Linked DNA regions of Homo sapiens. The protein of the gene in region 2 purifies or fractionates together with the protein of the main gene of each other region. This does not show direct contact. Each region holds a gene or a part of one and is shown on either strand. Other genes may lie near its edges. The genes, in order: TMEM132E and ATP11A.

The links.
Region 1: the proteins of ATP11A (region 2) and TMEM132E fractionate together in Homo sapiens (co-fractionation; one large-scale study listed by BioGRID). This does not show direct contact.

The regions. Positions count from the first base shown.
Region 1 is NC_000017.11:34,577,970-34,582,416, reverse strand, and holds the start of TMEM132E (transmembrane protein 132E precursor), read right to left. Parts: upstream 2,836-4,447; 5' UTR 1,341-2,835; coding exon 1,274-1,340; intron 1-1,273. UniProt on the Homo sapiens protein: Required for normal inner ear hair cell function and hearing.
Region 2 is NC_000013.11:112,688,612-112,693,109, reverse strand, and holds the start of ATP11A (phospholipid-transporting ATPase IH), read right to left. Parts: upstream 3,073-4,498; 5' UTR 2,694-3,072; coding exon 2,655-2,693; intron 1-2,654. UniProt on the Homo sapiens protein: Catalytic component of a P4-ATPase flippase complex which catalyzes the hydrolysis of ATP coupled to the transport of aminophospholipids, phosphatidylserines (PS) and phosphatidylethanolamines (PE), from the outer to the inner leaflet of the plasma membrane.

The DNA.
Region 1 (4,447 bases), on a different chromosome or scaffold from region 2:
CCCCTCTTTTTCTTATTCTCTCAACCTTGAGAATGCGCTTTGGTCAGGGTGAAAGAGGCCGCTGGTTAGAGACCTTGGGCACACTCCTGGCGAGCTTGAGCAGGCTCTTAGGGACTGGGCAGATCTGGGCAAGAGCTGAGCCCGGCACACCGAGGGCGCTCCACCAATGCGGAGAGCCCACTGCCCCCTCCATCTAAGCGCCCTCCATTCTGCCTGAGGCTCACCCCTCAGCGTGGAGCATCGAAACACCCCCGCCCCCCAACCCCGCCACGCCTTGCTGGTTAAGAAAATGTATCCCAGGTCGGCTGGTTTCACGTTAGGAGGGAGCAGAGGGCCCCGCTTCTCCACTCTCCTTTCGGAGCTCTCTCCCTCCCACCTCGGTCTGCTCCCCTCGCCTCCTGGAGCGTCTCCAGCTTGCGGAAGGCCCGCTGCAGCCTCCTTCCCTCTGGTCTGATTTCCCATTCTTGGGGGCTGTTCAAAAACCCGCTGCCCCCCACCCGTATGCCCGCTGTCCCACCGCCAAAGCGCGCCAACCTCAATCCCTCCTTCTCCCACCCCCTTTACCGCGGAGCCCGGGGCGAGCCTGGGGAGCAGACGCAACAGATTGCAGAATGCGAGAGCGCGGAGCCCGCTCCCTCCGCGCGCGGCCCGCGGCCCACCGCCCCGGCCTGTGCGGGTGCCCAGACCCCCGCCCTCCGGGCTCGCCTAAGCCGGCCATTTAGATGCAGCTCACAGGACCGCGGGCGTGCGAGCCGCGGCGGCTCCCCGGCCCGGAGTCAGTCCACTTCCCTTCCCGAGGACCGCCGCAGGAAGCGAGGCGACGGGCGGCGCGGCCCCGCACCGGCCTGCGCGCCCGGGGCGAGGAAAGACGCGATCCCGGCGGATCCCAACAGCCCCCAGCCCGGCCGGCTGCAGGGAGAGACGGGGGCGGGGGGCGGCCTGGACGCGATCCGGAGGATCCCTCGGATCCCTCTAGATTTCCGTGGGCGGACACGACCCCAGACCTTCGGGTTCGAACCCTTCTTTATAACCAGGAGAGGACTGGAGCGACACCCTCCCCCCACCCTTTTCTGGCGCCGGGCTCGGTCCCCTCAGCTGAGCTCGCCGGAGGGCTCGGGGGCTGGCGGTAACTCGAGCTGCAGCCAGAGACGCCAAACCCGGAGTGGCGGCTGCGAGTCCAGGGGGTGTGGGTGCTCCTCTCCCCAGTCTTCCCCGTACCCCCTCCAGTGGCGCCTGCCGCATCCTCACCCCCAGTCCGCGCCGCGACACTTACCGTGGGCGAGTAGCGCTGAGAGGCAGAGCAGGGCGGCGCCGCCGCGGCCCGACATCCCCGGGGCCATGGCCGAGGCGGGGGCGGGAGGGGTCCGAGAGAGCAACAGTCGACGACGACTTGGCCCCAGGCTGGGCTTGGTCACATCCAACTCAGGGCTGCCGTGGCGCCCGGCTGTCTCAGATGCAGCTCCGGGACCAGAGAGTGCAATTCGGGGACACTTTGCGGGGAGGGGGCGTCCCAGGCGCTGGCGGCTACACCCTCGGAGCCGGTGGGGGCGCAGCTCCGGGCGGGAGGAGCCTCCACCTCCCCCAGCTGGTGCCCCCTGCAGGATCTGCGAGGCGCGGGGGGAGCTGCACGTGCAGTCCGGAGCCCGGTGGCCGCGGGCGTCCCGGGGGCTACCTAGAGCCCAGTGCTGAATCTCCCGGCCTCACGGCCCAGCTCGAATCCGAACTCACTCGAGGGTGCCGACTTCCAACGCAATCCCCAGTTTCCTCGGTTTCGGTAGTAACCGCACATGGATAGCGCCGCTTTCTTCCTCCAAGCCCCTGCAGCAGCCCAGCATAAAAATCCCAGGTCAGGTGCAAATGAATGCTGTCTTTCTCAAAGAAAGAGAAAATCCAGACAACTTTAATCCATCTGGAGAAGGAAAAGTTTCCGTGCGGTGCTGAAACTGGCGACGCCGGTCGCCACCACCCTAGGCGACGCCCAGACCGGATGCCCGAGGCGGGCGGCCAGATGTTTGTCCCCTCGCAAGGCTCGCTCCTCCGCTCCAGCGCGCTTTCTCCAGTCTGGATCAGGGCCCAGGCTCCACACAGGCCGGCTCAGCGCCTCCTGCCCAGGCAGCCGCTCGGCGGCTGGGGCAAGGGTGGCGCGGCCAGAACGGGCTGCCCCATGTAGATGGGGCTTGGAGAAGCGAGGGAGCGAGAAAGCCGGCTAATGCGCCCTGCCCCGAGCCCTTCCTGCCCAGGACGTCGACTCCAGCTTGATGACCATAAACGCTGTAAGATGCAGAGGGGCTCCTGCAGCTCACGGCAGCTCCGGGCCACCCCGCTAAGGTCTCGCTGTCTCGGCAGAGAGGCGCGCTGCCCCGCCTCGCTCCTCGCCTTCCCTGGGGGAACCTGCACAAACCTTGAACTTTTCTGGGGTTCAGAGTCTCCGACGCCTCCTCCCCGCCGCCCCCACCCTGTCCCCGGACGCCCGTTCGCCCGCTGTCTCGATGCTGCCGGGCATCGGCTCCCGCTCCCTCCGAGTCAGTTTGGGCGAGCGGATCGCCGCGCCAGTCCGGGCTGCGGGCGGTGAGACGCGGGCGCGGCGCCAGGGGCCAGGGCAGCCGGCACCTGCGCAGCTTGCGGCCAGGGAAGCGGCAGCTGGTGCCTACGGGGCCGAGAGGAGAGGAGGTGCTGGCAGGGGAGCCGGCTCCCCATGGACGTGTGTGGGGGAAGAAGAAGAATCGAGGAGCAAAAAGGAAGAGGAGGTGGGGGAAGCCACAGTTGCACGAAGCAGCCGCCGCCGCCGTCGCCGCCTCCTCGGCGCTCGCGCCGGCTGCTCCGCCGTAAATGACTCGAGAGAGACACACACACTCGCGCTCGCCCGCCCTCCTCCTCCGTCCGGGATTCAGCGCCCACCCGGGCAGAAGCGGGCGCCGAGCTTGGCGCGCTCACTCCCACCCCTCCCAGATTCCCCGTGGTCACGTGGCCCCCGAGCGCGCGGCCCACAGCTCGCGCGCCACGGAGACTCCCCGACTCCTAGCTCCCCCTCCTCTGTCCACGTGTCCATTCCGCATTCCTAGCCTGGCGGCGCGCGCGGCTCCTTAATGAGACTCGGGCCAAGGGCCGACCTCGCGATTCCGCTCGCCCCTATTTTATGTTTGATTTTTCCTTCCCAACGCCGGCTAGCGCTGGGACCCGAATGGGGCCGGCCAGCTGCGGCGGGAGGAGCCTCCACCTCCCTCAGCTGCGTTTCTCCAGGGTAGACGCCACCGCAGTCACTGATGTCCCTTTTCAAAGGATGCACGCTCCCCACCGGGCGCCGGAGGTGTTTTGCAGCCGCTCTTCCAGAGGCGCGGGTAGGGGGCACCCTACCCCCACCCCCAGAGTTCGCTGGGCACTGGCTGGGAATCAGCCTCGCTGCTGTGCCCAGCTCCTCTCGGGCCGCGGGGGCTCTGGGGCTCAGCTTCGTGCGGGATGGGTCCGGGGCGCAGCTGTGGGAAACCTATTTATTCTGTTGCTGGGGAAGGAAGACGGAGAAGAGGAGGGGACAGTGCTTTCCTACAGGTTGTTTAGCAAGCCTTTAAAGAGGCATGAGGTGGGGGTGGGGAACTGCCCCTCTTGCATACTCACCCAGGCACCTGCTGACTAGCGGGAGGGGTGGCTGGAGTGATATCTGTTCCCACCATCAGGCCCTTTCCATTAGAGTGCAACCTAGATCAGACCCGGCAAGTCAACCTTCACACCTCATCTGTCAACCAGGCATCGGATCCATGGCAATGATTTTATAGCTTCGTTGGGTATCAACTCCAATCCCCAGAGGGTGAATTTCAATCCTACCCTGCTCTGGAGGGACAGGGTCTTCAATCCCATGGACATATCCCTACTGGGGAGGATATGGATCTTGAGGGTCACCCTTCCATACCTCTGCACTCAACTGGAGTGAGAGTGTGGGGCCAGGTCAGAGCAAAGCCAGCTGGGGCACTCAAACCGTGCCCTCCATCTGCCTGACTCCATGCTAGCCCTCTTGACCCTGAGAGTTTCCTTTCATCTAGGACGGTGACATTTTGTTTTTGGAAAATGTGCTTGCATTTTTCATGGAAGGCTTCCTCCTCCCTGGCTGCTGGCTGTTGCTGCCTCGCTTGGTACTGGGGCCTGTAGAGGGCTGCTCTGGCCCTTCCCCCACCCCTACATCTGTCTGGAGCTGGGGGGAGGTGCAGCCTGAGGAGAGCTGGCCAGCTCTTGGAGGCCCTGGGGATAGAAGGTGCTGGAGTCGTCAAAGAAGATTATTCTCATTAGGCCCCTAATGCCTGATGGCAATTAATGTCACCCAAGGGCTTATTCACCAACCCCCTGAGAAGCAAGCTAGCAATCAGGCTCTGTGTGGGGGAGAAAGGGGGAAAGATCCACCTCCTGAGGCAGAGGAGGGCTTCAGGAAGAGGAGGAAGGAAGCAGGGAGGGCCCTCCA
Region 2 (4,498 bases):
CCAGGGTTAATCCACAATAAAATGCCTACAGCAATGTTTTCCAAGGACTTCTTTATCTTTTAGCCACCCTCACACATCAGAAGGAGCTGGAAAGCTTTCTTTGTCCCAGGAATTCTGACTATGTGAACACCAAGAAGGAACAGGGTCTATTTATCTATCCTTTTTAATAAAGTAAGTCACATAAGGAAACCATGAGGAAATATGAGTATTCAATCCCAGACTCTTTTTTCTGTAGCAAAAGGAAATATAATTTAGTCCTACATAGTGGACGATAACGCAATTACAAGAAAACAGATCATGACTGTTTCTGGAAAAAGTCAAATTAGTTTAATACCATAGACATGAACTTAAAATGATAGAGATGAATGGCTCTGTGTGTAAATATGGGTGAGGTAGCCAGATGAATACACTGCAAAAAACACAGGTGGAATGAGAAAAACAGAAATAATATTATCCCACAACTCGTATTCCCGAGACGTTATCCAATAATGTATATGCTGGAAAAGTTCACTAAAGAATATTTACCGCTTAGATTAAAAGAAAATGTGATGCCATAAGCGTAATAATACAGCAAAGGGGAATTAAAAATGCAAGCTACGCAAACACTTATATAGATCTATATAACAGAAAACAGCTGAAGGCCTGGAGAAAGGGAGTCAAGCATCAAAATTGGACGTCTGTCTGTCCCCCTCCCAAGATGAAGGGGTCAGAAACCGGCTGGGAAGGGGGGATTCTCCAAAGGGTGAGCCGGGCTGGCCCATCCATCTCTCATTTCTATGGAAAGAGGCTGCACATTAGCCCCACAACGTGACCCTCCTTTTTAACACTGAGTGTTAGAAGGGAACGGAATGAACTGGGAACACCGCGGGCAAAGTGAGTGTTAGTCCCTTCCCTCTTCCATTTCGCTCGAAGGAAACAAAGCAGGAAAATAAGGTGTCTAGGGACCCACACTTCTGAGCGACACAACTGAGAACAGAAGCTTCCGCCCAATAAAGCATTTCTCTTACACTGCAGGTTACCTATAGTCACTGTGATTGGGTCTTCTATAACGTTACCACAGTGAAACACAGGTTTACCACTCACATTAGGATTTGAACTGGGGGCTCGAGCACCAGTGAGGGAGTAACACAAGGCTCCTGGAGCCAAGCCTTTCAAGATCTAGCATCGGAATCATCAGAATCACCAGGGGTGAGTTCTCTCCACTTAAGTAAGTCAGGCTGACCTTCCTAAGGCTTCCCCGAGATCAGGAAACGATGTAAGGTGCACTCAAGTCTCCTTGACTCTCCGAGGTTTTTGGTTAATAAATAAATCCGGGGGAAAGCATTGATCTGGCATCCCCCACTGAAAAGAAACCTATCTATCTTTGGCCAAGGTCTCCTATTTAAAGAAGGCTCATAAATATGAAAGGCTGCCTGAGGTAATTCCTATGCCGGGAAAGAACAAAGTTCCCATAATACTGCCCTCTCTAGTATCAAACCCGGTGCATGCGACTTCTCGAACCTGTGATTGACCAGTGACCGCCAGCCTCTATGGAACAATGAAGCCTCTTGTGCAAGACAGTGGCAGGAAACGCTGTGCTTGGGACAGTTTTCTTCCTCTCCTACACACACACACACACACACACACCCTTTTTTTTTTTTTTTTTTGATACAGAGTCTCGCTCTGTCACCCAGGTTGGAGTGCAGTGGCTCGATCTCGGCTCATTGCAACCACCGCCTCCCGGGTTCAAGCGATTCTCCTGCCTCAGCCTCCTGAGTAGCTGGGATCCCAGGCGCCTACCACCACGCCCGGCTAATTTTCGTATTTTTTAGCAGAGACGGGGTTTCACCATGTCGGTCCGGCTGGTCTCAAACTCCTGACCTCGTGATCCGCCCGCCTCGGCCTCCAAAAGTGCTGGGATTACAGGCGTGAGCCACCGCGCCCGGCCACACACCCCTTTTTACACCTAACGCCAGGGATTCCGGTTTCCCCTCCTCTGGTGTAAAACAAAATCAACTTTTCCCCTTCCGAGTCTTCCCTCCTGAGCTCTTCACTTGCTTATCACTGAAGGGGCAAATTCCAGAGGAACCCAAGAAGACCCCGGACTTCTGATCTAATTGGTTACTTTAAGGTAAAAAATAAAAAGATTCCAAACTCCGCTTCTGAATCCCCCAGGGGTGTTAAAGAACAAACACAATTGCTACCTTTTTCTGCAGAAGTGTAACGCTTCCTCCCAATCCCTTAATCTTACAGACACGGCTGCGCGGAAGCCGCATCTGAAGGTTCCTCCCCAGACCCGGGCCCCGGCGGGGTCGAAGTTGGCTCCCTCCGGGCGCCCGGTCCGCCGGGACAGCTCGAACCCCAGCCAGCCTCTCCGAGGGACCCCCAGGGCGCTGCGGGCGGGAAGGGGGCGCCAGGCGGCCGCGGCCAGGGAGCAGGTGGCCGCCCGGGGCTGGGGCCCCGCGCTGTGCCCACCTAGACCCCGTCGGAAGCCCCAGGGTGTCAACTCCGAGGCCCCTCCCCAGCATCCCGCTCGTCCCCGGGGGCGGTCCGAGTCCCAGACATCGGAGACCTCCCGGGACCCCGGGGCTGGACCGGCCACAGGGTCCGGGCTGCGGGGCCGGCCCGCGTCTGTCTGGTCCCCGGGTCCCCCAGCCCGCGCCGGGAGCACTCACGTATCTGTGCACGAGCGTCCGCACGAGGCTGCAGTCCATGGCTCCTCCGGCCGCTCCCGCTCCGCCGTTCAGCGCCCCCGCGCCCGGCTCGGCGCGCCCATGGGCTCCGGGGTACTAGTGCGGCCGCGCCCCCCGCTCCGGTCACGGCCTCGGCGCGCCGGGCGGTGCAGGGGGCGGCCGCGGCCCCTCCGCGCTCATGCCCGGCCCGGCCGGCGAATGCTGGGTCCGCGGCCCCGCGCGTCGGCAGCTGCTCCACTGGCGGCAAGGCTGCTGCTCGGGGCCGCGCGCGCGCGCTCTGGCGCCTTCTCTCTCCCCGTCGGTCCGCCCGCTCGGTTGGGCTCGGCTGGAGCACCCCGGCCGCGGCGGAGCCTGCGCTCTGCTCCTCCCGAGTCTCCTCCTCCCCTGCCCGCCGCCCTCTGGAGCCTCCGGGCCCCGCTGGCTCCTGCCCCTGCTCCGGGCGCGCACGTCACCGGCGCAAGTGAGCATGCGCCCCGCGGCCGCAGCCCCCGCCGGCCCCGCGCCCACACCCGCGCTCGCACCCGCGCGCCGGCCCTGCCCCCTCGCGCCTCCGCCCGGGCCCCAGACCCTGGGGGCAGAGGGCAGAGGGCAGAGGTCAGAGGCCGCGGGGAGGAACCCCCCTGTTGCTTCCGCCTCCCGGGGCGCAGGCGCTGGGCGCGGCGGGGAAGGGACTCGGCACTGGGGAAACCCGGAGTTTCAGCCAGGGTCCCAGGGCTTCCTTCCCGGGTTCCTGCCGGAAAACTTTTCTCCTCCGCCCGGAAGCCTCGATGGGGCAGTGAGATCGCGGGGCGAGGTGGGAGTGTGGGAGGGGGCCGCGGGCAGAGAGCGGGAGTCCGGCTGGGTGGGAGATCTCCTGAGCCGAAGCTGGGTCTCGCCCCAGCGTGGCGCCACCGACCCGCAGGCTTTTCCTGCTCTGCAGATGGAGAGACACAGGGACGCTCCTCAGGTGGCTGCCCTGGGCTGCCAGCCTGTCAGTGGGAGGGGAGGGTGCAGACAAGAGGCCCCTGTTTCCGAAACCCCTCTGTCCCCAAAGCTGCGACAGCAGAAGACACTTAGGCGGCCTGAGGGGTTGGTGAACCACAGAGGAGCTCAGCTTCGCCTGGTCTCCAGCTCCCGGTGGCGGTGGCGTGTCCTTAATGCTGCTGGCTTTGAACTGGACTGAGAACTATTTACCACACAAACACCACCATTTCAATCCCGGAGAATGCCTGTTTTCCCTAGGGTGACCTGGCCGGGGTAACAAACACTTGTTCTCTAATTCCACGGTCAGCCTTGACTTAATTGAGGTACTTGATTTCCAACTTCCTGTCTTGCTGCCACAGATAATCACTGATGAAACCAAACAGGCAACACCTTTTGGTGGCCTGTGGAGAGCGCTGCCCCGTCTGGGTCTTAGGAAGGCAATTGAATATGAATGTTCTCCCGAGTGCTTGTGGAAAAGAGATGGTGTTGGCCACTTTTTAGACGAAGAGAAATGAGTACTAGTGAACACTAATCATAGTGACTAAACAGTAAACGGCTCCCATTTGTTGTCGGCTAAAGCACTGATTCTTCATTTTCCATCCCAGCCTGTCCTGCTCTGGCCTGCCCTGTGCTCAGGAAGCTGGCGGTCCCCCTCAGTGGATCTTCACCCACAGGGACAACCTGCTGCAGACCGGGTAGGAGGGAGGCAGGGGCCTCTTCCCCTCTCCTTCCTGGCCTGGCCCCACACCCACCAGTGTTGGTTTCACTCTGTGGCTACGATTCTTCCTGGGTGCCCTTTCCATTGCACAACTCCTCTAGGCTCTACGAACAGAACTTCTCCCCGCCCCCAAGCCTCTTAGGGT